Regions from separate parts of the Homo sapiens genome. Here all the other regions are linked to region 1. Evidence: fine-mapped expression QTL. A gene starts in region 1. Each other region holds a variant in brackets. All regions are shown on one strand. Distances are between the middles of the regions.

Region 1 (10,480 bases):
CTAACTATTTTCTTTATTATACTGAAACAGTCTGTGCCTTCAATCTCTTGCCTCGGCACCTGGGTAATCCTCCGCCCACAGTGACAAGAGTGAAACTCTGTCTTAAAAAAAAAAATTAAGAATTTCAAGATAGGACAGCAGAGCTTTAAATTTTTTTTTTTTCCTAGAGGCAGAGTCTTGCTCTCTTGCCCAGGCTGGGGTGCATTGTTGCAATCACATATCACTGCAGCCTTGAGCTCCCGGGCTCAAGTGGTCATCCTGCTTTGGCCTCCCAAAGTCCTGGGATTACAGGCGTGAGCCACTGCACCCGGCCTGTAGAGCTTTAAACAAAGCACAGGCTGCTTCTGAGCACAGGGCCCTCGTCACATGGCTATGAAGCCAGCCCTGCCTGGACCCAGAACCCTGGTGTGGGCACTTTATAGCTTATAAGCCCTCCAGTCAAGAGGCCTCAGCCTGAGCCTCCCTGAGCCTCAGTTTCCTCTCCTGTAATCTGTGAAAGCACTGAGCACTAATCTCCCTTCCGGGCTAGCTTTCTGCAATAGCTTAAAGCTCCCATCCCAAGATCTCTCCAAGAATCCTCTTACCAAGTCCCTGCTCCCAGCCTGGCTCCCTGGTCCCCATCCCTCTCCCCTCTCACACCCTTTCAAAGCCCAGAAAGGACAGGTGACCGAGTGACTGTCTCTGGGCTCATACAGTGGGGTGGTCTCCTGTGACAGGCTAGGGCTTCAGGGTATGGCTTAGCCTATCCCTCACACTTCCTTGGGGCCTCTTGGGGCAGACAGCCCAGGCGGGGCCCAGCAGGCACACTAGTCAGGTGCCTGATGATGAGGGCAGGCGCCTGGAACTGGGTCAACAATCGCTCACACGGAGGTGACTCAAGCAGCAAGGGGAAAAAGAGGTGGGGGTGGGGAGGTGGCTGTTTCTGTGCCCTCACTTGAGCCTCAGCTTTTAGGGTTGCCAGATTTATTTTTATTTTTATTTTTGAGAGTCTCACTCTGTCTCCCAGGCTGGAGTGCAGTGGCGCAATCTTGGCTCACTGCAACCTCTGCCTCCCAGGTTCAAGCAATTCTCGTGCCTCAGCCTCCCAAGTAGCTGGGATTACAGATGTGCACCACCACCCCTGGCTAATTTTTGTATTTTTAGTAGAGATGGGGTTTCACCATGTTGGCCAGTCTGGTTTTGAACTCCTAACCTCAGGTGATCCACCCACCTCAGCCTCCCAAAGTGCTGGGATTATAGGCGTGAGCCACCATTCCTGGCAGCCTGAAAATTTTTTAATTTTTTTTTAATTTTTTTTTTTTTTTAGTGATGGGGTCTCCATATGTTGCCCAGGCTGGTCTCAAACTCCTAGGCTCAAGTGATCCTTTCACCTTGGCCTTGGCCTCCTAAAGTGCTGGGATTACAGGCGTGACCCACTGTGCCTGCCTGCTGGTATGTAACTTGTTGTTTTTTTTTTTTTTTTAGACAAAGTCTCACTTGCCCTGGCTCAAGTGCAGTGGTGCCATCTTGGCTCACTGCAGTCTCCGCCTCCCAGGTTCAAGTGATTCTCCTCCCTCAGCCTCCTGAGTAGCTGGGATTACAGGCATGTGCCACCATGCCCAGCTAATTTTTGTATTTTTAGTAGAGACAGGGTTTCACCATGCTGGCCAGGCTGGTCTTGAACTCCTAACCTTGAGTGATCTACCCACCTCTGCCTCCCAAAGTGCTGGATTACAGGCCAATAGGCCTGGCCCCCTGTAACTTTTTTTTTTTTTTTTAATTTTTGAGACAGAGTCTTGCTCTGTCGCCCAGGCTGGAGTGCAGTGGTGCCATCTCGGCTCACTGCAAGCTCCGCCTCCCTGGTTCACGCCATTCTCCTGCCTCAGCCTCCCGAGTAGCTGGGACTACAGGCGCCTACCACCACGCCTGGCTAATTTTTTGGATTTTTAGTAGAGATGGAGTTTCACCGTGTTAGCCAGGATGGTCTCCATTTCCTGACCTTGTGATCCACCCGCCTCAGCCTCCCAAAGTGCTGGGATTACAGGCGTGAGCCACCACGCCCGGCCCCTGTAACTTCTTAAGCGAAGGAAAATAAAAAAAAAAAAAAAGCAGAAGCCACAAAGGAAAAGATTGACCAATATATTTCAGATGACATAACAACAACACAAAAGACAAATGACAGATTGGGAGGAAGCATCTGAAACATACAAAATACCCAGAATATATAAACAGCTCCTACAGTTCAACAAGAAAGAAAATACTGCAAAAACAATCAGCAAATAATACTGTGATGGTAGAACAATGTATCTACTTGGATGGTGCTCCTGGATTAGATTAACATTTAAATCAGTGAACTTTGGTTAAAGCAAATTGCTCTCCATTGTAGGGAGACCCCCTGAAACTATTGCTACGGAATAAAAGATGAAATGCTCCTGATTATTGTAAATACGAAATTGCATGCAGGATTGTGTAAAGACAATGCCAGGTTGGACTGCCAGTATAAGCCAACAGCTCGTGATGTGCTTCCCCCTGAAGAGAGCCTATGAACAGACGTGCAGTCAGGGAGGTTTCACATCACCAATATTCCTATCCCAGAAAAGCAGATGTTCATAGCCCTGGGAATGGAATGTGACCCTTGTGGAGGGCCTATAAATGGACGCATGAGCGGCACCTGTTCATATGGATAAGATAGGGCTATAAATGCCCTCATCTTGCCATGGCTCTTCTAGGCCTCTTTAAGGTTAAGGCATACTCCCTTCTGATAATTTCTGGTCTAACTGGTTATCTAGCTTCACGTCCTGTTTCTATGGATTGTTTGTAACCAGCTTTTGCTGCAACTCTTACTGCTGATTAATATCTTGCTAATCATAGGTTATGGAAAGACTGTGTTTCTGTTTTAAGGCTCTGTTAGAAATTACTGATGCACACACTATATTGTAAATTCTTATCTCTGTATACTGTACTTCTGCATACAGATGTTATGTTAAAGAATTACTTCATCCCCATGTGACCATCTCACCTCATAATCAAACGACCCTAAATCCCTCACTAACCTACCCTCGCCCTCACTAAACTTAATAATAAATGCTGGTATATCCAGTGCATTGGCAGCATCGCAGGACCAGAAGGCGGTGACCCCCTTGGACCCAGCTTTCACTATCTTGTGTGTGTCTATTATTTCCCGACCTGCCGATCCACCTGGGGACAAAGAGAGAGCCCCATTGCCTTGTGGGCTGCTGGCCAGATCCCGCGATACTCCATAATGTGGATGGACCTGAATAAAACAGAAAGACGGGCCTCGCCGAACTAGAGGGAATTCTCCTGCAGGCTACCCTCAGACTTAACCATCAGCTCTCCTGGGTCGCCAGCCCACCAGCTCACACTAAAGGCTTAGGATGGTTATGATAAGAAAGACAGATGATAACAGAAGTTAACCATGGATGAGGCTAAAGAGAAATTGAAACCCTCATACATCGCTGGTGGGAATGTAAAATAGTGCAGCTGCTTTGGAAAACAGGCTGGTAGTTACACAAAAGGCTAAACAGAATTATTATGTAATCCACTAATTCTACTCCTAGGTATATACCCAAGAGAAATGAAAACATGTCCACACAAAAACTTGTATGGGCCGGGCGTGGTGGCTCACTCCTGTAATCCCAGCCCTTTGGGAGGCTGAAGTGGGAGGATCCCTGGAGTTCAGGAGTTTGAGACTAGCTGACCAACATGGCAAGACCCTGTCTCTACAAAAACCACACAAAAATTAGCTGGACATGGTGATAAGCACCTGTAGTCCCAGCTACTTGGGAGGCGGAGGTGGGAGGATTACTTGAGCCCAGGAGGCAGAGGTTGCAGTGAGCAGAGATGACACCACTGCACTCCAACCTGGGTAACAGAGCAATACCCTGTCTCAAAAAAAAAAAAAAAAATGCTGGGGGGATGATGAAGATAGGCACAGTGGCTCAAGCCTGTAATCTGTAATCTCAGCATTTTGGGAGGCTGAGGCAGCAGGATCACTTGAGGCCAGGAGCTTGAGACCAGACTAGGCAACATATTAAGACAAAAAAATACAAAATATAGCTGGGAGTGGTGGCATGTGTCTGTATTCCCAGCTACTCAGGAGGCTGAGGTGGGAGGGTCTGAGGCTGCAGTACAAGGTGGCACCACTGTAATCCAGCTTGGGCGGCAGAGGAAGGCTCTGTCTCAAAAACAAAGAAACAAACAAAAATGGGCCACGCGTGGTGGCTCACGCCTGTAATCCCAGCAGTCTGGGAGATTGAGGTGGGTGGATCACTTGAGGTCAGGAGTTCGAGACCAGCCTGGTCAACATGGCGGAACCCTGTCTCTACTAAAATACAAAAATTAGCTGGGCATCATGGCACATGCTTGTAATCCCAGCTATCCGGGAGGCTGAGACAGGAGAATTGCTTGAACCCAGGAGGCAGAGGTTGCAGTGAGCCAAGATCGTGCCACTGCACTCCAGCTTGAGTGTTGGAGTGAGACTCTGTCTCAAACAAATGAAAAGAAACAAACAAAAAAGAAATGAGATACTGATACCTGCTATGTGATAAGCTTTGAAAACATTATGCTAAGTGAAAGAAGCCAGTTGCAGATCACATATTATAAAATTTCATTTATATGGAATATCCAAATCTATAGAGGTAGAAAGTAGATCAGTGGTTGCCTAGGGTTAGGGAGGGTGACTGCTAAAGGACATAAGGCTGCCTTCTGTGGTGATAAAAATGGTCTTAAACTGATTGTAATGATGCTGCATAACTCTCTTAAGACACTAAAAACCATTGAGTTGTACACTTTAATTTTTTTGTGTTGGCGGGGGTGGATGGAGTCTCGCTCTGTTGTCCAGGCTGGAATGCAGTGGCACGATCTCGGTTTACTGCAACCTCTGCATCCCGGGTTCAAGCGATTCTCCTGCCTCGGCCTCCTGAGTAGGGAATTACAGACCTCGTTATCGTGGCACCTTACCCTTCTGATGTTAAAAAAAAAAAAAAAAAGAGCGAGAGAGAGAGAGAGAAACATTTGTGAAGTAGGTTGTTGAGTCTCAGCACTATTGACCTTTTGGGCAGGATACTTCTTTGTTGTGGGGGATTGTTCTGTGTGTCGTGTGATGTTTAGTGGGATTGCTGGCCCTTACCTACCAGATGCCAGTGTCCCTCCACCCTGAGTTGTGACAACCCAGATTGTCTCCAGACACTCCTAAATGTCCCTGGCCGGCAAAATTGCCGCTGCTCAAGAATCACGGCTTTGACGATTAGACTTTGTGATATTTGTTTCAGTCTGTTTAGGTTTTTTTTCTTCTACCTGTATTTTTTTCTGGTTCTGGGTGGTTGTAATTAGTAGGTTATTGATCGATTCACCTAACATTTCATGAAAGTTTCATGTGTGTGTGTGTTTCAATAGAAGCATAAACTATACTCCCTAGTCTCAAGATACACAGGAAGGAAAATAAGCACAAATGTGTCACCAGGGCACAGACTAGTACTAGGTCCTCAGCAGGCCAGGTGTCTTATCCGCTGTCTGGGTCTGCTCTAGCTCCAGGCTTAGAACCCCTGCCACACGACTCCACAGCTCGGTTGGCACCCTTTCCCTCCTCCGACTTCTGCTGCCTCGAGCTTGGTTAGCCATCCCCCTGCCCCTGCCTCATCCTCAGCTCCAGTTCCTTGCTCAGGCTGCAGCAGTCTCCATCCCCTGTGCAGACACTGCCGTTCCTCCACGGCCCAGTATCAGGCTTTCCCTGGGCCTCTCCTCTCTCCTGGCCCATCTCCCATCATCCATCTCTGCCTGGCCCAGGCCCTTTGGCACCAAGCAGGCTGACTCTTGTCACTGGCTAATCTGTTCTGTGGTACATTTTCTCTCCTCACCCTCCCATATCAATTCCTCGAAGGCAGGGCCGATCTGGAGACTAGGAAGCCACTTCTCTTTCGACAGCCCCCACCACAGCCCAGCCCGTGCCAGGCACCCAGCAGCTCCTGAAGCCCACTGGCATTGAACATGGCATTCAATCCCTGCCAAGCCTGCCCTTCCCATCTGGTTTCCCAGGGCTCTTCCCAACACCTCCTCCTCCACCTGCCAGTTAAAATCTTCCCAGACTCAGCTCAAGGAGATGCTCCTAAGGTGGAATGAAATCTCTTCTTCCCCACCTGGAGACAATCTACTTCCTCTCCCTACACCTGGCAACTGGCGCACAACCTTGTATCTTAAATTAGATTCAGCCTGAGACTGTCTCCCACCAATCCCTGCTCCCTGTCCTGCTGAGCACCTTGAGGAAAGGGCTTTGGGGCTGTTTATCTTTGTCCTGGAAACCATCCTTCAACTCACTCTGGGGCCTGCCTAGCATGTCAACCGAGTTTGGAGAATAGGGCAGAATAGGGCAGGACAGGACAGGACAAGACAGGGCAGGATAGGATAGGAGCGAGCCAGCTCAGTAGCTCACATTTGTAATCCCAGCGCCTTGGGGGGCTGCGGTAGGAGAATCGCTTTGGGAGCAGGAGTTGCAGGCCGCAGTGAGCTATGATCAGCTTGGGCGACTGAGCGAGACCCTGTCTCTAAAACAAACACACAAGTCCGGGCGCGGTGGCTCATGCCTGTAATCTTAGCACTTTGGGAGGCCGAGGTGGGCGGATCACGAGGTCAAGAAATCGAGACCATCCTGGCCAACATGGTGAAACCCCGTCTCTACTAAAAATACAAAAATTAGCTGGGCGTGGTGGTGCGCGCCTGTAGTCCCAGCTACTCGGGAGGCTGAGGCAGGAGAATCGCTTGAACCCGGGAGGCAGAGGTTGCAGTGAGCCGAGATCGTGCCACTGCACTCCAGCCTGGCGACAGAGTGAGACTCCGTCTCAGAACAAACAAACAAAAGGATAGAAAGGCGAGCACAAATATTCCCAATTCATAACACTCCCTCGCACTGTCAATGCCCCAGACACGCGCTATCATCTCTAGCAAACTCCCCCAGGCGCCTGCAGGATGGGTTAAGGAAGGCGACGAGCACCAGCTGCCCTGCTGAGGCTGTCCCGACGTCACATGATTCTCCAATCACATGATCCCTAGAAATGGGGTGTGGGGCGAGAGGAAGCAGGGAGGAGAGTGATTTGAGTAGAAAAGAAACACAGCATTCCAGGCTGGCCCCACCTCTATATTGATAAGTAGCCAATGGGAGCGGGTAGCCCTGATCCCTGGCCAATGGAAACTGAGGTAGGCGGGTCATCGCGCTGGGGTCTGTAGTCTGAGCGCTACCCGGTTGCTGCTGCCCAAGGACCGCGGAGTCGGACGCAGGTAGGAGAGCGGCCGCGCAGACCTCTCGCCTGCTCCTGCCCAGGGGCCCGCCAGGGCCATGTGAGCTTGAGGTTCCCCTGGAGTCTCAGCCGGAGACAACAGAAGAACCGCTTACTGAAACTCCTTGGGGGTTCTGATACACTAGGGGGAGTTTTATGGGAAAGAGGAAGCAGTAATTGCAGTGACGCCCCGTTAGAAGGGGCTTTCTACCTCCCCAGCATTCCCCCAAAGCAGGGACCACACCATTCTTGACCCAGCTCCACCCCTGTCGGTAGGTGCTGGCTTCTTCCCCTCTCCTGGTGGTGGTGGGTGGTTCCCGCGGCGGCCTGGAGCCGGAGGGGCGCGCGACCCTGGGCTGGGAGCTCCGAGGGCCTGGGAACGAGACCTGAGACCTTGGCTTCTCGAAGGTAGTAGGGACTTGGGAGTGGTGACTGAACCTGGTCTGGCTCCTCCTTACTTCCTCTTGTTGCGGGTGGGACGAGCTAGCTTCCGCCTCTCCCAGCCACTTTTTCCTGCTCATTTGCAGCTAGGTTGGCTCCCCTTTTGGGAATTTCCTCTCCCCTTGGCACTCGGAGTTGGGGGGTGCCACCTAGTGGAAGATAACGGAGCTAGGGTCTTGAAGAGGCTGCTGTCCCCTCTGGCTGTTTTGGCGGTGTAGGGTGGCATGAGAGACTGCGACTCGCCTCCTCATCCCTGTTTCTGTATGCGAGTGCTTGTATTCAGTAGAAGCATACACTATACTCCCTCAATTTAGGGTAAACAGGAGGGGCCACATGCACAGGTAATTCACCAGGGAGCCGAACACTCCTGTGCAGACAGACTCCCCTTCCCAGCAAGCCATGGCAGCGGACAGCCTGCTGAGAACACCCAGGAAGCAGGCGGTGCCAGCTGCAGGTGCTTTGCCTGGGAGCTGTGGGGCTGAGGAGAGGGTCCACTGTCCAGGACCAGTGAACTTCATCCTTATCTGTCCAGGAGGTGGCCTCTTGGGGATGCTGAGTTAGGGGAGGGGCACTTGAGGAAAGCCAGGTGGAGCAGAGAGGATGTGAGTGACTGGGTGGGTGAGATTTCCTGCCCCTCCCCCCGCAGTGGTATCCACACCTAGACTCGTGGGGTAACTGAGGCACAGACAGAGAGCAACTTCTCAGGCCCTCACAGTTGGCAATTCTAGGATTAGGACCCAAGTGCGATTTTCAGGCAGTCCCTGTACCCTGTTTCTGTTGTACCTGTTGCACCATTCCCAGGCACTGCCCATCGTGCCACTAGTGATATGAACCCAGGTCCAATACGCTCTGGGGCCATCAAAGCCTGACGTCACCATGACCTGATGTGTGACGTGTTATAGGTGTCCCTTGGTATCTTCACGGAACTGGTTCCAGGACCCCAAAATCTGTGGGTGCTCAAGCCCCTGAGATAAAATGGTGTAATATTTGCATATAACCTATACATACTTTAAATCATTTCTAGATTACTTATACCTAATACAATGGAAATGACATGTCGGCTGGGCGTGGTGGCTCATGCCTGTAATCCCACCACTTTGGGAGGCCGTGGCAGGTGGATCACCTGAGGTCTGGAGTTTGAGACCAGCCTGACCAACATGGTGAAACCCCCATCTCTACTAAAAATACAAAAATTAGCCAGGTGTGGTAGCGCACACCTATAATCCCACCTACTTGGGAGGCTGAGGCAGGAGAATTGCTTGAACCTGGGAGGCGGAGTTCGCAGTAAGCTGAGATCGCGCCACTGTACTACAGCCTGGGTGACAGAGCAGGACTCCATCTCAAAAAAAAAAGAGAAAAAGAAAAAGAAATGCCATGTAAATAGTTGTGATCCTGAATTGTTTAGGGAATAATAAGAAAGAACTATCTGTAGATGTTCAGTATAGATGCACCCATCGTAAGCCTAACTACATTGTATAACTCAGCAACGATGTAACATTTTCAGGGGTTTTTTTGTTTTGTTTTTTGAGACAGAATCTCAGTCTCACTCTGTCACCCAGGCTGGAGTATGTTGGCGTGATCTCTGCTCACTGCAACCTCCACCTCCTGGGCTCAAGCGATTCTCCTGCCTCAGCCTCTTGAGTAGCTGGGATTGCAGGTGTGCGCTACCACGCATGGCTAATTTTTGTATTTTTAATAGAGATGGGGTTTTACCACGTTGGTCAGGCTGGTCTTGAACTCCTGACCTTGGGATCCGCCCACCTGGGCCTCCCAAAGTGCTGGGATTACAGGCGTTAGCCACCGCGCCCAATATATTTTGATCCCTGGTTGGATATGGAGGGCTGACTGTACTTAACATCTCTAAGCTTCAGTTTCCTCCTTTAAAATAAAGGTGTGGCTGGGTGTGGTGGTTCAAGCCTGTAATCCCAGCACTTAGGGAGGCTGAGGTGGGTGGATCAGCTGAGGTCAGGAGTTCAAGACCAGCCTGACCAATATGGTGAAACCCCCTCTCTGCTAAAAATACAAAAATTAGCCAGGCGTGGTGGCGAGCGCCTGTAGTCCCAGCTACTTGCTTGAACTTGGGAGGCAGAGGTTGCAGTGAGCTGAGATCGTGCCACTGAACTCGAGCATGGGCAACAGAGCAAGACTGTCTCAAAAAAAAAAAAAAAAAGGGGGTGAGCAGACGTGGTGGCACGCTCCCACAGTCCCAGCTACTTAGTAGGAGGCCAAGGTTGGAGGATTGCTTGATCCCAGGAGTCTGAGTCCAGCCTGGGCAACATGGCAATACCTCATCTCTAAAAATAAAATAAAAGTAAAGGTATTAATTACTACTTTGGATGGTTGTTGCAAAGAAATATATATAAAATAATGGAGAGTCTTGTAACTGGCTCCCAAGAGGCTCAACAGACATTACTGTTTTTGCTTCTTCATTATGAGTTACCTCTCTGGCCACCCCACTGAACTAGCTGGGCTAGCTGAGCCTGGGAGAAGAGTTGTTTAGGAAGTGAGAGGCTGCTCTCCACAGAGACTCAAGGCTCAGTTCCTCCTGGTGACTCAGATGGGCAGCCCAGTGGGCACACGTGGTCTCTCTCCACATGTGGCTGAGTTTCACTTCCAGAATAGATGGAGAGGCAAGGGCAGGGTTTAGCATGCTTGAGGAATCTCAGAGGGCCCTGGTGGTGTGGGGGACCCTCAGAACACAGGTGTCTCAAGGGCTGACCCAGCTTCTGTGTCCTTTTCTCTGGGTGAGGAGGGGACATTCATGGGCAGAT
Region 2 (10,480 bases), 19 kb before region 1:
GAATGTCTACTTGTGGTCCCTTACACTCTAGGTCCTCACCCCGACTCTCGCCAAACTGGAGAGGTCCTCTTCATAGGTGCCACTCTGGGCAGCCAAACCAGCACCAGGGTCCCTCCCAAGCCTCCCTCCCAGCCACCCCAGGCCCCAGAGGGACAGGCACCAGGCAGAAGTTCATCATCTTTAGACTTAAGGAATTAACAAGGGTCAGGGAGACTACACCAGGCTGAGGGCTTCTTGGTTCCTGGAGACATGCCCAGCTACAGCAAACACAGGGAAACACGAAGGGGGCAGCTGGAAGATTTGGTCTTGAACTTGGGGGGTGGGTAAGTGATGATCCCCACGACTGGAGCAGCAGGAAGAAGTTGTGTCTGAGGAAGTGCTGGGCCGCCCAGAGGGACAGCCCTGCCCTGGAGCTTGTCGCCGGGAGGGAAGGGAAACAAGCCCCCTCCCTCAGTGCTGAGGAAAAGGCACTTGGCTGGGTCTCCTCCTGCCCTCTCCCCATCCGTGGGAGAGACGGGGTCCTTGCCTCCTTGCCCCTTTCAGCCGCCCAGAAGCCGGTCCTGGTTCAGCCTCTGGAAGAAGCTTTTGCCGAACTCATAGGTGCTGATCATGATGGCACAGGAGGGGGCAGCCTTGATGATCCGAGGAAGGAAGCCTGCAGTGGAAAGGAGGCCCGTGTCAGGGGTCAGGTCGCAGGTCCGCCATGCCCCCACCCCCGACACCCACACACTGACCTGCAAAGAGTCCCTTGGTGCCCGACTCGGCCCGGATCCTCCGCAGCAGCAGCCAGGTGGAGTCCACATGCAGGGGGTTCACTGCAAACGCGAGGCCGGCTCAGTGAGACCCCATTCAGGACCCCACCTGTCCCCTGCCACGGCAATCTGGGCCCTCACCTCTCACAGCCTCCATCGCTCCCAGAGCGACCTGGCGTTGGGTCTTTACCACGTCAAAGGGTAGAGTCAGCACTGCAGCCACCTGGTGGGGTGGGCGGGGAGAGGGCTCAGCTCCACTTCCTGGACCCCCACCCCTACCTCCCAGATGGCTCTTGCGGCTGGGAGGGACAAAGGCCTCATGGGGTCTGCTTCTGGGCATCTCCAAAAATCCTCAGGCCCCCCGCAGGGAGACCTCCGCTGGCCTCACCTCCAGCCCAGTCCACTCACCGTCCCTGAGATGCCACCAGCCACAAAGCTCATGCCCACAGAAGTCTGGTCCTTCGGCCTGAACCCATTGAGCCAGCTCTTCACCAGCTCATAGTTGAACCAGTACAGGGCTTGGGGTGGGGGATGCACTGATTAGAGACGGGAAGGGCAAGGAAGTGGCCCCAGACCGTCCACCTTTCACTGCCACCACTCCCTCCCAGCTGTGAGTCTTGTCTGCTACATGCAGGCTCAGAAGCAGGCACTCTGTAGGAATTAATCTCCTGACCGCCTGGGCAAATACTCTACCTGCTAGGCCCACTTCACAGATGAGAAACCCATGGCTCAGAAAAGCTAAGTAACTTCATGGTCACTAGTCACAAAGCTGGGACTTGGCTGTAGACCCTTTGTGCATCACCCCAGGGTTCCCTCACCCACCCCCTGCAGCTTGGGTGCCTACCTGAGAAGGGCACATCTCGAAGGGCAGTGGGGCCCCAGCCCAGCCACAGTGAGCGCCAGCCACCCTGAGCCACTGCAGTTCGAACACAGGCACCCAGCTCCCGGTACGACACATGCTGAGCCTGCAGCTTTGTCCGCATAAGCTCCAGGGGGCTGATCACAGTCACGGTGCCCACTGTGTGGGGATTGGGGGTGACAATGGGGAGAAGTGAGATCACAGGTCTTACATGGCATCACCTACCTGCTGTCCCAGGTCTGGGGACCTAGAACACCCCCCTATCCCTAGGCTGGCAGAGGTTGGGGCTGGGAGCTGGGACTGACTGGGTTTGGGCCGAGGTGGGGACAGAGGGAGGTCAAAGGCCCAAGACTATGCTCACGGCGGGCCAGCGCGCCAGCCACCATGGGTGCGTAGAGGTCAGAGGTCAGGGCTCGACCACACAGGAAGGCCTTCAGTTGGTCATAGGCAGTGAAGTAGATGGCGGTAGCTGGCACAGTCATCACCCTGGGGATACAGAGAGAGGTTAGCTGGGACTCCCAAAAGGACCCAAACTTTTAAAGCATCACCTGCCCCACCTAGCCATTCAACAGGGAGCAAAGGGTCAGGAAGTACCAGAGGAGAGTGGTGCAGGACCCGGCTACTCACAGGGTGGCGGGGAGGCCGCTCCAGAGGGTCCTGGTGCCCTCGTGCCTCACGATCTTCACGAAGGCATCCTGGCCAAGCAGGCACCAGCCCAGGGGAAGAGGAGGGACACAAGTGATGTCTGTGATGGGGCTGGCCCAGGCTAGGCCTTTGCCTGACGCCCTCAGCCTCTGCCCACAGCCCTCAGGCCTCCCTGCCTCTACACATGCAGTACCCCAGCAGCTGGGTCCAGGCGGACACCTGGTCACCCTTCAAAAACCTTATGGAGGCCAGGCACGGTGGCTCACATATGTAATCCCAGCCAGCACTTTGGGAGGCCAAGGCGGATAAATCACTTGAGGCAGGAGTTCGAGACCAGCCTGGCCAACACGGCAAAACCCTGTCTCTACTAAAAATACAAAAATTAGCGGCAGGTGGTGGTGCACGCTTGTAATCCCAGCTACTTCGGAGGCTGAGACAGGAGAACCACTTGAACCCAGGAGACAGAGGTTGCAGTGAGCTGAGATCACACCACCGCACTCCAGCCTGGGTGACAGAGCGAGACTCTGTCTAAAAGAAAACAAACACCCCATGGAGGTACTGCCTTCTCCGGAAGCACTTCCTGACGGAACCGGCTACCTCTGCGTGCCTTGCCCAATCCCTTTACTCCTGGGTCTGCTGCCCAGCCAGACCGAACTCCTCACGGACACCGACGAATCCCTACGGACCCAGCTGCTCCTCACCATGGTGCCAGTGAAGCGGGTAGGGTCTTGAAACCAGGTGGCACAGCGGGCACCATTTGGGCACAGGTACAGAGGCTCCAGGACACCATTGCAATACAGGAGGCACTTCCCTGTGGATTGGAGAGAGGAGGGCACTGGGGAAAGGCAGGGGGCATTATAATGACAGGATCCTAGAACCTTGCAGGGAGGCAGTGGGCCCCTATCCCTGGAAGGCCAGTAAAGGCCAGGTCCCTGTGTGGATGTTCTGGTGCAGGTCACAGGACTGGCTGGCAGGACCTGGGAGTATATGCTAGTCCATGGCTGTGGAGCCCACTGGTGCCCTGGGGACAGGGACAAGGACTGTCTCCCCCTTGCACCCTCCCATGCTCCCTGTGGCTTGGGGCACTCACATTTGGTATAGGAGAGGCTCCACAGTCTGGAGGAAGGCATCAGCTCTAAAATACAAGGCAGCCCCTCAAGTCAGGAGAGCCCCCACCCGCCCTAGGGACCCCATCTCTGGGAGATCTTTTTATTTTATTTTTTGAGATGGAGTCTTGCTCTGTCGCCCACCCTGGAGCATAGTGGCACAATCTCAGCTCACTGCAACCTCCACCTTCCCGGTTCAAGCGATTCTCCTGCCTCAGCCTCCCAGGTAGCTGGGACTACAGGCGCATGCCACCAAGCCCGGCTAATTTTTGTAGTTTTAGTAGTGAGAGAGTTTCACCACGTTGGCCAGGCTGGCCTTGAACTCCTGATCTCAGGTGATCCACCCACCTCAGCCTCCCAAAGCGCTGGGATTACAGGTATGAGAAACCACGGCCAGCCTCTGGGAGATCTTTCTTTTGCCCAGGCACCACCCCTCACTAGTTCCAGGTCAGGTACTCACCGCTGGCCATGGAGGGCCGCTGAGACTGCAGGCGAACCTTCACCACGTCCAGGGGTGTCACTGGGGGAGGAAGCGGGTCTGAAGGCTCCTTTCAGGACCCCACCCCTAGGACTCCTCCCCCAGGACCACACAGCCTCCAATCTCCGGTCTGCCCCATCCCCACCCGCCCCCACCCCACCTCCCCTAGGTCTTACTGAAGAGAGAGGTAACCACAGCCCCGGTGCCTGAGGCCACCATTTGCTGGAGGGGGCTGATGCCCGCAGGGTCCTGGTCAGCCATCTTGAAGCTTCAGTCCTGAAAACCAAACCTCAAACAGACCACAACTCCAGGGATGGCAGGAAAGGAGGCTGGGCCACTGTGAGACTTTTGTTTTGAGACGGCGTCTCGCTCTGCGCACTGTTGCCAGGCTGGAGTGCAGTGGCACCATCTTGGCTCACTGCAACATCCACCCCCGTTCAAGCGGTTCTCTTGCTTCAGCCTCCCAAGTAGCTGGGACTACAGGCGCGCACCACCACGCCTAGTTAATTTTTGCATTTTTAGTAGAGACAGGGTTTCACCATGTTGGCCAAGATGATCTCGATCTCCTGACCTCGTGATCCGCCCGCCTCAGCCTCCCAAAGCACTGGGATTACAGGCGTGAGCCACCGCACCCGGCCCACTGTGAGACTTTAACCCAACCCTCATCCACCGCCCTCGAAACATCTGTTGCCTCAACAACCCTGGCAATGACCTCTAAAGCAGGGACTGTCCGCCCCCCTCCGCCGGGGAAAACTAAGGCTCGGGGAGACGAGGTGGCCTGCCCAAGGTCACTCAGGAGTGGTTCCGAAGGAAGCTAGGGTGCCAGACCTATCGCTCGAATGCAGTAGGAGCCAGGGTCCTTCCCTCGTCCACCTCGCACGTGTCCACTGCGCACCTCCTACGTGCAGGCGCGGATTTGGCCCTCGTGGCCCCAAAATCAGAGTACCTGTGCTGCCCCCACAGCCCCCACTCCAGCACCAAGGCCCCGGGCAGGCACCTGAGAGCCCAAGTTACTGGGCGTGGAGGGACGGCCGGGCATCGAGGGTGACGTGTAAACAGATCCGGTGACCAAGAAGGGCCCGTCGCCTCCTCAGGACTGCGGGCTGGGATGCCCGGCCCTCCCCGCCCGGCCGGACGGGCCAGACCCGGGGCCCGGAGAGAAAGAGCAGTCTCTGGGTTCCCGCCCCAAAATGCAGGCCCGGGGCGCAGCCGGGAGAGCGGGAAGTAGGAACGTAGGACCAGGACGTCTCCCCGACCCTCGGCGACACTCCCGGCCCCGAACGGCGGAGAGCCGCCAGGTGAGGGGGACCACGCCAGCTCGACGGCCCCAGCACCTGCCCTGGCTCGCACGGCCGCCCGGAGACCCCCGCTTCCGTCTCCGCCCCCAGCCCCGGCCCAGTGCCGCCTACCTGGCTCTAGGCTGGTGCTCGTGCGGCGCGGCGCCCAGGG[T/C]CAGGCGGGCCCATACCGGCTCCGCCGCCTGTGCGCGGTCCGCGCGCGCTCGCAGCGCACCTAGGCCGACGCCGAAAGCAGCCAAGGGGGCCCCGCCCCTACACCGCGCCACGAGGCCCCGCCCGCCGCGGGCCGACCAGCCGCAAGCCCGGAGTGTCCCCGGCTCCGCCCACTCGCGTCTCCGCCCGGACCTGCGACGGTCCCGCCCCCTTGACGGGGCCGCGCGGGCGAGTTCCATGCCTGTCCAGCGCTGAGAGCTGCCGGCCAACTTCGCGGTCTCCACGTCGCGCTTAACGTGGCAGCAGCACGCACTTCCAGCATCTTTTTTTAGACAGCATCTTTTTCAGCCTCGCTCTGTCGCCGAGGCTGGAGGGCAGTGGCGCGATCTAGGCTCACTGCAGCCTTGACCTCCCGGGTTCAAGCGATCCTCCTGCCTCAGCCTCCGGAGTAGCTGGGACCACAGGCGCGCGCCGCCACGCCCGGCTGGTTTGTTACTTTTATTTTTGTCTCCCTATTTTGCCCAGGCTAGTCTGGAACTCCTGGGCTCAAGCGATCCGCCCACCTCGGTCTTCGAAAGTGCTGGGATTCCAGGCGTGAGCCGCCGCGCCGGCCTTAACAGCGCATTTTCACCAGCCCCGCCCCGGCCGCGCGCGGCACTGGAAACCCCAGCGCCTTCTGGACGGCGAGGGTGACGCACTGGCCCTCTTCCTCGGTGTCCTCAGGTGCGTGGCGGCGGCAGTGAGAATGAGTTCTTCGAGATCGCCGGGAGACCACACAATAACGACGAAGTTACTTGCCGGGCTACCCGCCGAGACTTGAAAACTTCGCGGCGACTTCTCTCGCCGGCCTTAGCATCGCCCCCATTTTTCAGGTTACAGGACAGGCCTGCAACTGCAAAACGCTTTGTAAACCACAGGGCCCCGCGCGGGTGTGCGCCACTGGGTTAGCTGAGCTGCAGCCCGGGCCGGGCGGGCTGGGACGTGAGCAAGCCGGGGGAGACGGGAGAGCCATGGGGAGCCAGATCCCACCTTCGCGTGACCTTGGGCAAATCACAACCTCGCCTAAGGCCCGGAATGACTCTGCGCGGAGAGGAAGAGCACTGAGTGCGGGAGGGCATCGACGTTTTGGTGTTGGTTGCTCTCGTATCGTGATTTCTTCTGAGTCTCAAAACTCTTTGCAGTAGGTTATTGTTGAAATAGATTACCACAGGCCGGGCGCGGTGGCTCACGCCTGTAATCCAGCACTTTAGGAGGCCGAGGCGGGCGGATCACTTGAAGTCAGGAGTTCGAGACCAGCCTGGCCAACATGGTGAAACCCCGTCTCTACTAAAAATACAAAAGTAGCCGGGCATGATGGCTGGCGCCTGTAATCCCAGCTACTCGGGAGGCTGAGGCAGGAGAATCGCTTGAACCCGGCCGGCGGAGGTTGCAGTGAGCCGAGATCGCACCACTGCATTCCAGCCTGGGCAACAGAGTAACACTCCGTCTCAAAAAAAAAGGCCGGGCGCAGTGGCTTACGCCTGTAATCCCAGCCTTTTTGGAGGCCGAGGCGGGCGGATCACCAGAGGTCAGGAGTTCGAGAGCAGCCTGACCAACATGGTGAAACCTCGTCTCTACTAAAAATACAAAAAATTAGCCGGGCGTGGTGGCGCATGCCAGTAATCCCAGCCACTCGAGAGGCTGAGGCAGGAGAATCGCTTAAACCCGGAAGGCGGAGGTTGCGGTGAGCCGAGACTGCGCCATTGCACTCCAGCCTGGGCAACAAGAGCGAAACTCCGTCTGAAAAAGAAATAGATTACCCCGTTTTACAGAAAGTGAAACTGAGGCTCGACGTGAAGAGCCGGAGATTCGAACCGGCCGGGTGCTTTTCCCAGGGCTCCACACTGCCTCCCCGGGAGACAGGAAGGCTTAAGTCCAGCGCTGCCCTCTCCGATCCCGCTTGTCAGGGAGACACTTTATTTCCCGGGGCAGCCCCGTACCCCAGGCCCCACCACCCACTTCGCGTTTAGAACTTCTGTGCTATCTTGCTTATTTGTCCTAACAGAGAAACCAGCACGCGCGGGCGGTGGCGGAGGGGGGCGGGCGGGCGGGTGGAGGCGGGGGGGGGCGGGCGGGGAGATGGGTACTCCTAGCCTGCGCCTTTAAGAAGGGTAGGCCTCGACTTTGACGTCTCTGCCTTCCCCGCCCTTCAGGCCCCCACTGGTCGCGTCCGGCGCTGGAGGAGCCCAGTCAGCCGGCGCCTGCCGGGTTAGCACGTGGACTCCGAGGGGCCAACTATCAGCTTTCCCTGACAAAATGCCTTTGAGCTCCCCCACAGCTCTGAAACTCCAGCTTGGGAGCAGGGAGAGTGCAATCTGTGACCTGTAAAGGGGCGCTGGGCAAAAGGGCCCGAGAGAAGGCGTCCTTTCCATTCCCTTCCCATCTCAAGCTGAGTTCAGAAATGACACGAAATAATTTAATCAACTATCAGTCAAGGTCGGGCTCACGCCTGTAATCCCAGCAGTTTGGGAGGCCGAGGTGGGCGGATCACCTGAGGACAGGAGTTCGAGACCAGCCTGACCAACATGACGAAGCCCCGTCTCTACTAAAAATACAAAAATTAGCCAGCGGTGGTGGTGCGCACCTGTAGTCTCAGCTACTTGGGAGGCTGAGGCCAGAGAATCGCTTGAGCCCGCGAGGTCGAGGCTGCAGTGAGCCGAGATCACACCACTGCACTCCAACCTGGATGACAGAGGGAGACTCTGTCTCAAAAAATAATAAATAAATAAATAAATAAATAAACTATCGGTCAAGGTGAAAGCCTACTCTCCGCCAAGGTTCTTTACAACTTAGACGTTTTGGTTTACGGAACAGGGGAGGAAACTGAGGGCTCTTGTGTGTAGTGACTTTACTCGTGTGGAGGAGAACCCAGACTTTCCCTGCACACACTCTCCCGTTTTATGGATGAGAAAAGGGGGGCCCCAAAGGTCAAATCGCCCCAAGGTCACTCAAATGAAAGAGTCAGCATTAGACCCCCCAACGTGCCTGAGCCAGATGGGCTCCCACCCTGTCCAGTTCTCAACCCAGGTGCTGTGTTCCAGCAGCACCCTGACCTGGCTTTCCATCTCACCTGCCTCTTACAAGCAAGTGTCTTAAGGCCTCTAAGCCTTAGTTTCCCCATTTACAAAATGGGCTGATGGTGATGATAACGCACCTTCCTCTAGGGATTATGTAAGGATTTAATGCATTAATGGCTGTGACGTGCTTAGAACCCTGGCAAGTGGCAAGCATTCTATGACAACTACTACTATTGCTGTTACTGTATTGTTGTTAATTGCTCTCTAGAACCTGTGGCATGGAAAGTTCCCCAGATTCTGGCCCCACCTCTGCCTCCAGTATGCAGTGATGGATAATAATAACTTCTTATACCCAGAACGAAGGTCACCAGTGCAAAGTAGCACAGCCAGGAATCAAACCTGGGGACCTCTGAGCCTGTTTCCCCAACAGTACATTGAGGGCCTTGCACTCCATTTCTGGTTTTCTTTTTGTGATGCTCTTAAATAGGATCCTTAGAGATTTGTGGATACACCTGTTTCCTCATCTGAAAATAAGGACGATATCACCTGCTCTGCCTAACGTACAGATTCTTAATATCATGTCTCTGAAAGCTACATGAAGAGTCAATAAACAGTTCTGTGAGACCTGCCAGGGGCCCAGAGCCGCGTGGATCACAGTCCTTACCTTCTCCAGAATGTAAATGCTTTGAAGCTTAGAGAACCATGAGGCCTCATGGGTGTGACCAAAGCAGTGGCCGCTGGAGAGGTTATCCATGGGTGATGGGACACCTCGGGACCTCGTGAAGTCTCTCCCAAGAATGACCGTGGCAGTTCAGGGTGGAGGAGGAGCTTTGACATGCTCCAGAAGCTATGGAGCCCTGACTCAACACGCCCACCCTCGAGGAGCAAGCCTGGAAGGCTGCAGAGGTGGCCACTGGCCTGGCTGACTCAGGCAAGGTTTACATTGGTTATGCACCCAGTGGTCCTTCCAGAGGCAACATGTGGCCCCATGTGGCCATCTGCAGCTTCCTCGCACAGATGGAAAAGCAGAAACTCTCCCTTTTTAACTGTAAAAGGGGAGAAGAAAGTACCAGCTGCAGGGGTGGTTGTGGAGACTGAAGGACCAGTCCTCACCTGATACCCAAGGGGCCAGTTTATTACAAGGCTGAATTTGTCCAAGGCAAGCCCTGGGACAGGGGCAGTGTCCCCTCCAGCTTGAACCCCCAGGGCCTAGGAAGACATCTCTGGGGCTGATGGAGGACTCAAGGGCTTCACCCATGGATGGGACCCCACCAGCACCTCTGAGTCCAGGGCCAGCACTGTCTGCATCTAGAGTAGTCTCCCAAAGCAGGGCCCAGGGCTGCAGAACCACTGAGGCCCCCTACTGCCCAGAGGAAAAGTCCAAATCCCAGGCCCATAGCAAATGTAGTCTGATCTTTTTTTTTTTTTTTTTTTTTTTTTTGAGACGGAGTCTCGCTCTGTCGCCCAGGCTGGACTGCAGACTGCAGTGGCGCAATCTCGGCTCACTGCAAGCTCCGCTTCCCGGGTTCACGCCATTCTCCTGCCTCAGCCTCCCGAGTAGCTGGGACTACAGGCGCCCGCCACCGCGCCCGGCTAATTTTTTGTATTTTTAGTAGAGACGGGGTTTCACCTTGTTAGCCAGGATGGTCTCGATCTCCTGACCTCATGATCCACCTGCCTCGGCCTCCCAAAGTGCTGGAATTACAGGCGTGAGCCACCGCGCCCGGCCTGTAGTCTGATCTTTAATGGATTCTGAGGGTGGAAAGGAGTAGGGGAGTGATGGAGGACTTTATTGGAACAAGTGGAGAAAAGGGAATAAGGTCTGTATGCTAATTACTCTTTTTTTTTTTTGAGACGAAGTCTTGCTCTGTACCACAATGCCCGGCTAATTTTTTTTTGTTTATTTATTTATTTATTTATTTATTTATTTATTTATTTATTTATTTTTGGAGAGACCGGGTTTTCCATGTTGGCCAGGCTGGTCTCAAACTCCTGACCTCAGGTGATCCACCCACCTTGGCCTCCCAAAGTGCTGGGATTTCAGGCATGAGCCACCATGCCTGGCCTCCCAGGTTCAAGCAATTCTCCTGTCTCAGCCTCCCGAGTAGCTGGGATTACAGGTATGCACCACCATGC
Region 3 (10,480 bases), 48 kb before region 1:
CAAAAAACAGTTCAATAGAAAATGACGAAAATACTTTGAAGAGGAACTTCACAGTAGAGAAAATCCAACTGACCAATAAGAATTTGATTAATTTTATTATTTTTTTAGAGACAGGGTCTTTCTTTTTTTTTTTTTTGAGACGGAGCCTCGCACTGTCGCCTAGGCTGGAGTGCAGTGGCACGATCTCGGCTCGATGCAAACTCTGCCTCCCAAGTTCATGCCATTCTCCTGCCTCAGCCTCCCGAGTAGCTGGGACTACAGGCACCTACCACTACCACGCCTGGCTAATTTTTTGTATTTTTAGTAGAGACGGGGTTTCACCGTGTTAGCCAGGATGGTCTCAATCTCCTGACCTCGTGATCCGCCTGCCTTGGCCTTCCAAAGTGCTGGGATTACAGGCGTGAGCCACCGCACCTGGCTGAGACGGGGTCTTTCTATGTTGCCCAGGCTGGAGTGCAGTGGCTATTCACAGGCGTGATCCCACTACTGATCAGCATGGGAGGTTTGACCTCCTCCCTTTCCACCCTGGGCTGGTTCACTCCACCTTAGGCAACCTGTTGGTCCCCCACTCCTGGGAGGTCACTATATCGATGCTGAACTTAGTGTGGACACCCGATCTGCATAGCGCACTACAGTCCAGGACGGGCCTCAAGCAATCCTCCTGCTTCAGCCTCCCAAGTAGCTGGGACTATAGGCTCACATCACCTCACCTGGCTCAATAAGCATCTGAAAAAATAGCCAATCTCATTAATATGCATGAATATACCAACTACAGTAAAATGTCTAACAACAATATTCAAAGTCAGGGACAGAAGAAATGGAAGTATACTGTTATAAGTTTCCTTTGTAACATCTTTATTGAAGTATAATTCACATGCCATAAAATTCACCCATTTAAAGTGCACAATTCAGTGGCTTTTATTACTCCCCGAGTTCTACAACCACTACATTCTAAGTTTAGAGTATTTCCATCACTCCAAAAAGAAATTCCATGCCCATCAGCCATCACTCCTCATTCCTCCCTCCAGCCCTAGGCAACCATTAATATTGTTTCTGTCTCTATAGATTTGCCTATTCTAGACATTTCATGTAAATAAAATCATACAATATAGGCTGGGCGCTGTGGGTCATGCCTGTAATCCCAGCACTTTGGGAGGCTGAGGTGAGCAGATCACCTGCGGTCAGGAGTTCGAGACCAGGCTGGCCAACATGGTGAAACCCGTCTCTACTAAAAATACAAAAATTAGCTGGGCATAGTGATAGGAGCCTGTACTTCCAGCTACTTGGGAGGCTGAGGCAGGAGAATCGCTTGAACCTGGGAGGCGGACATTACAGTGAGCAGAGACTGTGCCACTGCACTCCAGCCTGGGCAACAAGAACAAAACTCCATCTCAAAAAAAAAAAAAAAAATCATACAATATAGGTTTTTTGGTGGCTGGCTTCTTTCACTAACCATGATATTTTCAAGGTCATCCATGTTGTAGCATGTATCAGTATTTCATTCCTTTTTATTGCTGAATAATATTCCATTGTATGCATATAATACATTTTGTTGGTCCATTCATCAGCTGATGGACTTTTGGGTTGTCTCCACTTTTTGGCTATGGTGAATGATGCTGCTTCAGGGGGTATTCCTGATGGGTCTGAGCCCCTGGTTTCCATATCCATTCAGATCATGGTTTTGCTGCAGTTGCCCATTCAGTTATCATCACTCATGGAGTCAACACGAGGTGACCAGTCAATCCCCTGAGGTCTAGATTTATTCTTTCTGCACCCATTATATAGCAGCAACCCTGTCTCCTCATGATAATCAGGGTTGATTACCCTGCCAGGAGAGTAGCTTCTTTTTATTTTGTCTGCTGATCTACTGGCCCGAGGAGCTCAAAACGATCATAAGGCAGCCATAGCTTCAGTTTTAGTGGAATCCTTACTGAGTGGCCTGGTAGAAGCATTCCCTTCACCTACCCTTGGGAATCAGGATCACCAATCATGATCACTAGTCTACCAAAGTATAAAGTGGCAGGAGGTAAAGCTGGACACCGTGGTGCACACCTGTAGTCCCAGCTACTCCGGAGGCTGAGACAGGAGGATCACTTGAGCCCAGGAGTTCAAGACTGTTTTGTGTGATAATCCTGCTGGTAAATAGCCACTGCAGTTCAGCCTGGGCAACACAGCAAGCAGCTGTCCCTCTCTATTTTTTTTTTTTTAAAAGGCAGGGCTCAGTGGCTCATGCCTATGATCCCAGCACTTTGGGAGGCCAAGGGAGGAGGATTGTTTGATACCAGGAGTTTAAAACCAGCCTGTGCACCATAGTGAGACCTTGTCTCTACAAAATTAAAAAAAAAAAAAAAAAGTAGTGTGGGTGAGAAACATATATTTCCCAGTGGGTTCCTGGGAAGGATGGTGAGGGGGATCACTCCAACTTCTATTCCTAGGTTCCTGGAACCATGTATTCTAGCTATAGCAGACACAGCACCATATAATGACCATTAGTTCCAAGTAGATACTGTAGCTTTTTTTTTTTGAGACAGAATCTTGCTCTGCCACCCAGGCTGGAGTGCAATGGCGCAATCTCAGGTCACTGCAAGCTCTGTCTCCCGGGTGCGGTGGCTCATACCTATAATCCCAGCACTTTGGGAGGCCAAGGCAGGAAGCTCGCTTGAGCCCAGGAGTTCGAGACCAGCCTGGGCAACATAGCAAAACCCTGTCTCTGCACACACACACACACACACACACACACACACACACACACACAATTAGCCAGACACGGTGGTGTGTGCCTGTTGTCCCAGCTAGTTGGGAGGCTGAGGTGGGAGGATCATCTGAGCCCAGGGAGGTCAAGGCTGCAGTGAACCATGATCACTCCATTGCACTCCTGGGCAACAGAGCGAGGTCCTGTCTCAAAAATAAATAAATAAATAAAAATAAAAAGAAGCTGAAGGACATCTACTGACCAGGCTATCTTGTCCGCCCGGTTGCTTAGTACCCCTTCTGCAAAGGATGCTCACCGTGGGGTACCAATAGAGACATAGTGCAAACTTTGTGCTCACTCCAGCAAATCCATCCATTTGTCCTCCCCTCACAAAAACCCGTCTCAGATCTTCCAGCCTTGCTCCTTCTAGGTCTCTGACCTATCAGACAAGACTCTGGCCTCTACCTAGTAATCTGTGTATATCCTTAGCTCAAAGCCCTTTTCCTTCCACCTTATGTTGCTGACCAGGTGCTAATGTCAGCAGCTCTGTCATCAAGGGGGTTTCCCCTCACCACTGCCTTTCAGGGCCACCCTTGACTGTGGCTGTGATGTGGCTGAAGTTCATTTTCAGTCCACACCAACCTAGGAAGCCATTTTATCTGTAAATTAGATCTGGGGCTTTTTTTCCTCCTCTGTCAACTGGTGATAAAGAACTCCCCATGAGGCCAAAGGTGTGAGTTGAGGGAGAGACATAGCTGCAACAGGGATACGTGCCCTGGGGGTCTGGCTGCCTGTTCATGTAACTTACTTGTGCGCTTTAGGCTGAGTAGTCCTCATCTGGAATGCACCATTTCCATGGTAGGATGGATTATTGCTGCACCTGCTCAACTGTGTCACTTGGTGTATCTGACAGTTCCCGCTTCGCAATGGGCAGCTCTGATCACATCACCATACCTGTCCAATGGTCAGGTCTCTGCAGCACAACCGAAGACTTCTTTTTTTGAGACAGAGACTTGTTCTCTTACCCAGGCTGGAGTGCAGTGGCACAATCTCGGCTCACTGCAACCTCCACTTCCTGGGTTCACGCCATTCTCGTGCCTCAGCCTCCCGAGTAGCTGGGACTACAAGCGTGCACCACCACACCTGACTAATTTTTGTATTTTTAGTAGACAGGGTTTCACCATGTTGGCCAGGCTGGTCTCGAACTCCTGACCTCAGGTGATCCCTTGACCTCCCAAAGTGCTGGCATTACAGGTGTGAGCCGATGCACCCGGCCAGAAGATTATTTTTTAAAACCGGAACAGTCCTCTGCTGTAGATGGCATGGCCTTGCTCCAGAACCTTCTGGGCTTGCCAGAGACTCCCCAAAGCATCCTATGAATCATAGATAGATGGCATCTGCTAGGCTATATGAGCCCAAGTGGCAGGGAACTTTGCATTTTGGCCTGGACTGAAAAAAACCTCTCTTGTTGTGGGCCCCACTCAAAACCAGCAGCCTTCGGAGTTCCCTGAAAATTAGTTGGAGCAGTATTTCCAAGTGTGGCATGTGCCATCTCCCATATCTGAAGGGGCTTGCCAGGCTTTGTGCATCTTTCCTAGGGATAGGAGACACATGGTGGTGCCAGTTCACTGGACTCTGACAAATTTTGCAAAGATCCTTGAGTCTTTGTAGGATTTATCCTCCAACCTCTGGCAAGCACGTGCCTTGCCACTTTCTGTTCACCAGGTTCCATTAGCTCAATGTCGTCGGTACAATGGATTGTGTGATGTTGTGTGGAATGCCAAGATGATCAAGGTTTCTGCTCTATTATGACAGAAAGCAGGACAGTTAACATAGCCCTGGGGTAAGACTGTGGATGTGGACTTTTGTCTGTCCTCAGGGAAAGGAATCGGCTTTTTTTTTTGAGACTGAGTCTCGCTATGTTGCCCCCGCTAGAGTACAGTGGCTCGATCTCGGCTCACTGCAACCTCCCTCTCCCGGGTTCAAGTGATTCTCGTGCCTCAGTCTCCTGAGTAGCTGGGATTACAGGTACCCACCACCACGTCTGGCTAATTCCTGTATTTTTAGTAGAGACAGGGTTTCACCATCTTGGTCAGGCTGGTCTCAAACTCCTGACTTCAAGTGATCTGCCTGCCTTGGCCTCCCAAAGTGCTGGTATTACAGGCGTGAGCCACCGAGCCTGGCAGGAATCTGCTTCTAATCTTACTTCCTTCAACAAATTAACAGTCATGGACTAAATGGCAGGGACTCTGTTGATCTGTTCTAAGAAAGCTAACACATCTGGCACAGCACTCAATCAGGGCGCCACTTGGTTATGTGCACCCTCATCTACAATGATCCATCTGGTTTTTGCAAGAGCCAGATTGATGAATTAAATGGGGATATCCTGGGAACCACCACTTTTATATCCTTTGTGAGTGACTCCAACCACTGCCATTCCACCTGGGCTGGGGCATTGCTTCTGATTAACTCTCTTGGGAGGGAGATGAGGAAGCAATTTCTAATTGGCCTTTCCTACCCTAATGACTCTTATTTCATTCTTTTTTTTTTTGGAGATGGTTTCATTATGTCACACAGGGTGGAGTGCAGTGGTACAATCTCAGCTCACTGCAATCTTGACCTCCCTGGCTTAACCAATCCTCCCACCTCAGTGTCCTGAGTAGCTGGGACTACAGGAGTGTGCCACGATACCCAGCTAATTTAAAAAAATTTTTTTGTAGAGATGAGGTTTCACTATTTTGCCCAGGCTGCTCTCAAACTCCTGGGCTCAAGTGATCCTCCCACCTTGGCCTCCACACTTGGGATTACAGGTGTGGTAATGGCTCTTATTTCAGGAAACCAACGCGAGAGATCTGCTATCTACTAAGTACCTCTATTCCACTATGTATTCAGGGGCCAGGGAAATAACCATCAAGCAGACTGATGGGCCAGATCTCCTTTCATCACCTGGCCTCCATATGCCCCACACTAATACATGCCCATGATGGCATTTTGGTTCCTTAATATTAGTGTCAGTTCCAACTCTGTATCCAAAAGCCTTGAAAGATCTGAGTATTTCCCTTTCCCCAGGATGCAGTTGCTCTGATAAGCAGCTGTAAGTACCTTTGGGGGAAGAATAGGATAATTACCATGATATAAACTTGCCATGGCATTGTAGGATTCTTCCTGAAGGGAACTGGCCCCCACTTCAATGAAAGGGCTCTATATTTGGCCACGTTTGGTGGCTCACATGTGTAATCCCAGCACTTTGGGAGGCCGAGGTGGCACATCACTTGAGGTGAGGAGTTCGAGACCAGCCTGGCCAACATGGTGAAACCCCGTCTCTACTAAAAATACAAAAAATTAGCTAGGTGTGGTGGCGAGCACCTGTAATCCCAGCTACTTGGGAGGCTGAGGCAGGAGAACCGCTTGAACCTGGGAGGTGGAGGTTACAGTGAGCCAAGATTGCACCACTGCACTCCAGCCTGGGTGACAGAGCAAGACTCCATCTCAAAAAAAAAAAAAAAAAAAAAAAAGACAAAGGGCTCTATATCTGAAAACTGGTTTGGGCCTGGAAACTGGGTATGGGATGGGGATTTTCCTTTGCAGTGGCTAACTTCAGCCTTCTGCTGTCTCATTCTTGCTTGTTTTTATAAGCAAGAGATACCCTCCTTCACCATCCTCCTATCTGGGAACACCATGGTCTCTTGGTCATCACAATAGATCCCTGCTTACATTTCTGGTCTTTCTGCCTATTA[C/T]GGTAATTATGTCCACTTAGCCTCTCATGACCACGTGCTGTCGCCTGACCTCGTTCTGGACTCCTGTTATACCCACTGACTCTAGAAAGGCTAGTCCCATAGCAGCTCCCGCTACCATTGCTCTGGCCTGCTGAGGACAGCTACCACTGACCTGCAAATGCCAGTGGCCCTGTTCCAACTAGCACCTTTTGTATCACTTTATTTATTGAGTATTTCTGGGCCCTCATGAAGAACACAGTAGGCTGGAGGGTTCTATAGTCTTATATAATAGTCATTTTATTCTGGCATGCCCACTTTTCTGAGCCTTTATTCTTCCAAGTATTCTGTCAAGGAAGTTCCAACATCTCTACCTCATTTGCTGGAACTCATAGTTTTTCCACACTTTGAAGATCTATCCCGGGGGCATATTGCAACAGGCTTCTGGTGTCCTTGCCAAGCTTTAAAATGTTAAATCCCAGGCCAGGCGTGATGGCTCACTCCTGTAATCTCAGCACTTTGGGAGGCCAAGGCAGATGGATCACTTGAGGTCATGAGTTTGAGACCAGACTGGTCAACATGGTGAAAACCCGTCTCTACTAAAAATACAAAAATTAGCCCGGTATGGTGGTGTGCACCTGTAATCCCAGCTACTCGGGAGGCTGAGGCAGGAGAATTGCTTGAACTCAGGAGGCGGAGGTTGCAGTGAGCCTAGATCGCACCATTGCACTCCAGCCTGGGTTACAGAGCAAGACTCATCTCAAAATAAATAATAAATAAATAAATAAATAAATAAATAAATAAATAATAAATAAAATAAAATAAAATGTTAAATCCTTACCAGGTAGGGCATTCCATATCAATAAACGTACCCTTATTCAGCATTTTTTTTTTTTTTCTGAGACGGAGTCTTACTCTGTTACCCAGGCTGGAGTGCAGTGGTGCGATCTAGACTCACTGCCAACCTCCACTGCCCGGGTTCAAGGGACTTTTGTGCCTCAGCCTCCTGAGTAGCTGGGAGTACAGGCACACGCCACCAGGCCCAGCTAATTTTTTTGTATTTTTAGTAGAGATGGGGTTTCACCATGTTGGCCATGCTGTTCTCGAATTCCTGACCTCAGGTGATCCTCCCGCCTCAGTCTCCCAAAGTGCTGGGATTACAGGAATGAGCCACCCGACCCGGCCTTACTCAGCCTTATATTCCACCCCCTGACCCCAGTCTAACACCCTCAAGATATGTTCCCAAACATGTTCTGCCAAATTCTTCTGGTAAATGTTCACCAGCTCCTGCAGGTCTTTTGGTGAATCATCCTTTTCTTTCCATAGATGGGACAGTGCTTCCCCACTTGGTCCCTGATGAGACTTGACCATTGTTATTGGTCTAGAGTCATGGAGGGGAGTCAACATCAGGCTTTGAAGAGGGCAAGTATCATCTTGTGAGGCGTCTGCCTCAGGTGAGGAATCTGCATGTTATCTAGGCAAGGGGAGGCTGCTCTCTTCCACCCAGGGGGAGAGGCCAATTCTGCCAGCCCAAATAACTCAGCATAATAAGGGGGTTTTAGAACAGATGTTCCCATACCAGGCCTCAGGATCCCACTCCTTCCCTCCCAGGGCCCTGACCTGCTGGGGCTTTAAATATAAAACCCTGCTACTCTTGCAATCAGATTATAGGACTGATTTTCATCACAGTCTGCCCTGCACAGGAGGTGAGGGTTTCCTTACATGCTGCCATAGAGGTCTTCTGGTTTTTGTTTTGTTTTAAGATAGGGTCTTGCTCTGTCGCCCAGGCTGGAATGCAATGGCACAATCATGGCTCACTGCAGCCTCAACCTCCTGGGCTCAAGTGATCCTCCCACCTCAGCCTTCTGAATAGCTGGGAACACAGGTGCTCACCACCATACCCAGATAATTTATTTTTTGTAGAGACAGGGTATTCCTATGTTGCTGGGGCTTGTCTCGAACTCCTGGGCTCAAGTGATCCTCCCAAAGTGCTGGGATTACAGGTGTGAGCCCGGCTTCTTCTAGCTTTTAACTATATCATAAATTGATAGCTGGCTGATGTGAGTCTGTCTTTTATTCTTTTAACCCTTTGATGGCATTAACAGCAACCAAACAACTCCTTTTTTTTTTTTTTTTGATGACAGAGTGAGACTCTGTCATCCAGGCAGGAGTGCAGTGGCGCAATCTCAGCTCACTGCAGCCTCTGCCTTGTGGCTTCAAGTGATTCTCGTGCCTCAGCTTCCCTAGTAGCTGAGATTACAGGTGCCTGCCACCACACCCAGCTAATTTTTGTATTTTTAGTAGAGACAGGGTTTGCCATGTTGGCCAGGCTGGTCACGAACTCCTGACCTCAAGTCATTCACCCGCCTTGGCCTCCCAAACTGCTGGGATTACAGGCATGAACCACTGAGCCCAGTCTCCACAGTCCTTATAATTACCATTTTCCTCTTACACCTCAAATACTAGAGCTATTGCATAGGCAGTGCATCCCTGTCTGCATCCCATTTCACCAGGGTGACAGTCTGACGATCAGTCCAGTTCTCCAGTGGGTATTAGTACCCCACTTACCTCAGCAATGGAATCTTTGGGCCATCTGGATGATGAGTGATCCAAAACCAGAATCTTATCCTGGGGGTCTACTTCCTAGGACAACTTTGGATATCAAATGTGTTGGTTTGGGTTCCCTCCAGAAGTAGAACCTGAGTCAAGGATTCAAAGGAAAGTATTTATTTGAGAAACACAAGTGTTTATTTGAAAAGCGATGCTAGGAATACCAAGCAAGCCAGTGGGAGACTGACATTGGAAAGAAAGGAGGCTCATAAAGGGTGTGTTATCAAGCAAGTTAAAAACATGGACAACCGGCCGGGTGCGGTGGCTCACACCTGTAATCCCAGCACTTTGGGAGGCCAAGGCAGGTGGATCACCTGAGGTCGGGAGTTCGAGACCAGCCTAACCGACATAGAGAAACCCCGTTTCTACTAAAAATACAAAATTAGCCGAGCGTGGTGGCACATGGCTATAATCCCAGCTACTTGGGAGGCTGAGGCAGGGGAATTGCTTGAACCCAGGAGGCGGAGGTTGCAGTGAGCCAAGATTGCACCATTGCACTCCAGCCTGGGCAACAAGAGTGAGACTCTGTCTCAAAAACAAACAAAACAACAACAACAAAACAAACAAACAAACAAACAAAACACGTGGACAACCAGAGCTTAATCCTAAGAAGGAACTCAGGGAGCCAGTCATAATGTTTGCTGCAGGACCTGAGGGATGAGGAAGCTGGCTATTTACGCACCGATCCCCATCGGTGATTGGCTGAAGGTTGCTGTGGCTGGGAGTATAATTCCCCAGAACTTTCAGCCTGCTCAGCAGGCTCCAGTGGCCAGAGAGAGTCCTTAGATAAAGAGCTGCAGGTTCTGGCAGCTGGAAGTTCATCCAGTGAACCCAAGAGCTTCAGGAACATGGGAGGGCACTGCCAGCATCTGCCACACTAAGGGAGGAATCCTTTCACGAGGAGATACTGCAATGGTTCCACTACCTGGAAGATAAGGCTCTCACCTGAGCTCAGGGCAAAAAAGGGGTTACCTTCTGGGATGACTGATCCCAAATGCCAAGGGTAAGCTGGGTTCTAACTCCAAAAGAAAGGCAGGGAGGACTATGTCTGGAACCCAGGGGACTCCCTGGTGTGCCATGTCCTATTTCCGTGTCCAATAGTAAAAGTTAAAAAAAAAAGAGCAATACAGTTCTGAGGATTCCAATTTGTAGAATGCTAATTTCAAGAATAAAGGTTTATTCTTGAAACCTTTATTTTAAGAATAAAGGTTTGGGGGCCGGGCGTGGTGGCTCATGCCTGTAATCCCAGCATTTTGGGAGGCCAAGATGGGCGGATCACCAGGTCAGGGGTTTGAGACCAGCCTGGCCAAGAGACCAGCCTGGCCAATATGGTGCAACCTTCTCTCTACTAAAAATACAAAAATTAGCCGGGCATGGTCGTGGGCGCCTGTAAATCCAGCTACTCAGGAGGCTGAGGCAGGAGAATTGCTTGAACCCGGGAGACGGAGGTTGCATTGAGCTGAGA

Evidence for each region.
Region 2: its variant is fine-mapped to the expression of GRN in whole blood (INTERVAL, PIP 0.95).
Region 3: its variant is fine-mapped to the expression of GRN in whole blood (TOPMed, PIP above 0.99).

Annotation. Positions count from the first base shown.
Region 1 is chr17:44,338,066-44,348,545 of GRCh38, forward strand. It overlaps GRN (granulin precursor), which reads left to right and starts at 7,237. Exons shown (of 13, transcript NM_002087.4): 1 at 7,237-7,269. RefSeq lists enhancers at 5,283-6,208, 7,360-7,509.
Region 2 is chr17:44,319,462-44,329,941 of GRCh38, forward strand. It overlaps SLC25A39 (solute carrier family 25 member 39), which reads right to left and starts at 5,362. Exons shown (of 12, transcript NM_001143780.3): 1 at 5,250-5,362; 2 at 4,017-4,116; 3 at 3,823-3,882; 4 at 3,347-3,391; 5 at 2,958-3,091; 6 at 2,239-2,306; 7 at 1,973-2,097; 8 at 1,597-1,770; 9 at 1,161-1,270; 10 at 894-975; 11 at 735-815; 12 at 167-655. The coding sequence starts at 4,101. The coding sequence ends at 540. It overlaps LOC124904009 (a long non-coding RNA gene), which reads left to right and starts at 5,992. Exons shown (of 2, transcript XR_007065768.1): 1 at 5,992-6,160; 2 at 7,481-8,087. RefSeq lists silencers at 4,905-5,124, 5,145-5,574, enhancers at 5,675-5,864, 6,025-6,104, 6,155-6,214, 6,285-7,136, 6,395-6,444 and 1 more and a cis regulatory region at 7,109-7,786. The variant T/C (reference allele first, on the strand shown) is at 5,290.
Region 3 is chr17:44,290,437-44,300,916 of GRCh38, forward strand. It overlaps RUNDC3A-AS1 (RUNDC3A antisense RNA 1), which reads right to left. Exons shown (of 4, transcript NR_110802.1): 4 at 9,138-10,480. It also overlaps the pseudogene RN7SL507P. Among named protein-coding and RNA genes, the nearest start is that of RUNDC3A-AS1, 13 kb to the right of the region's middle. The variant C/T (reference allele first, on the strand shown) is at 6,430.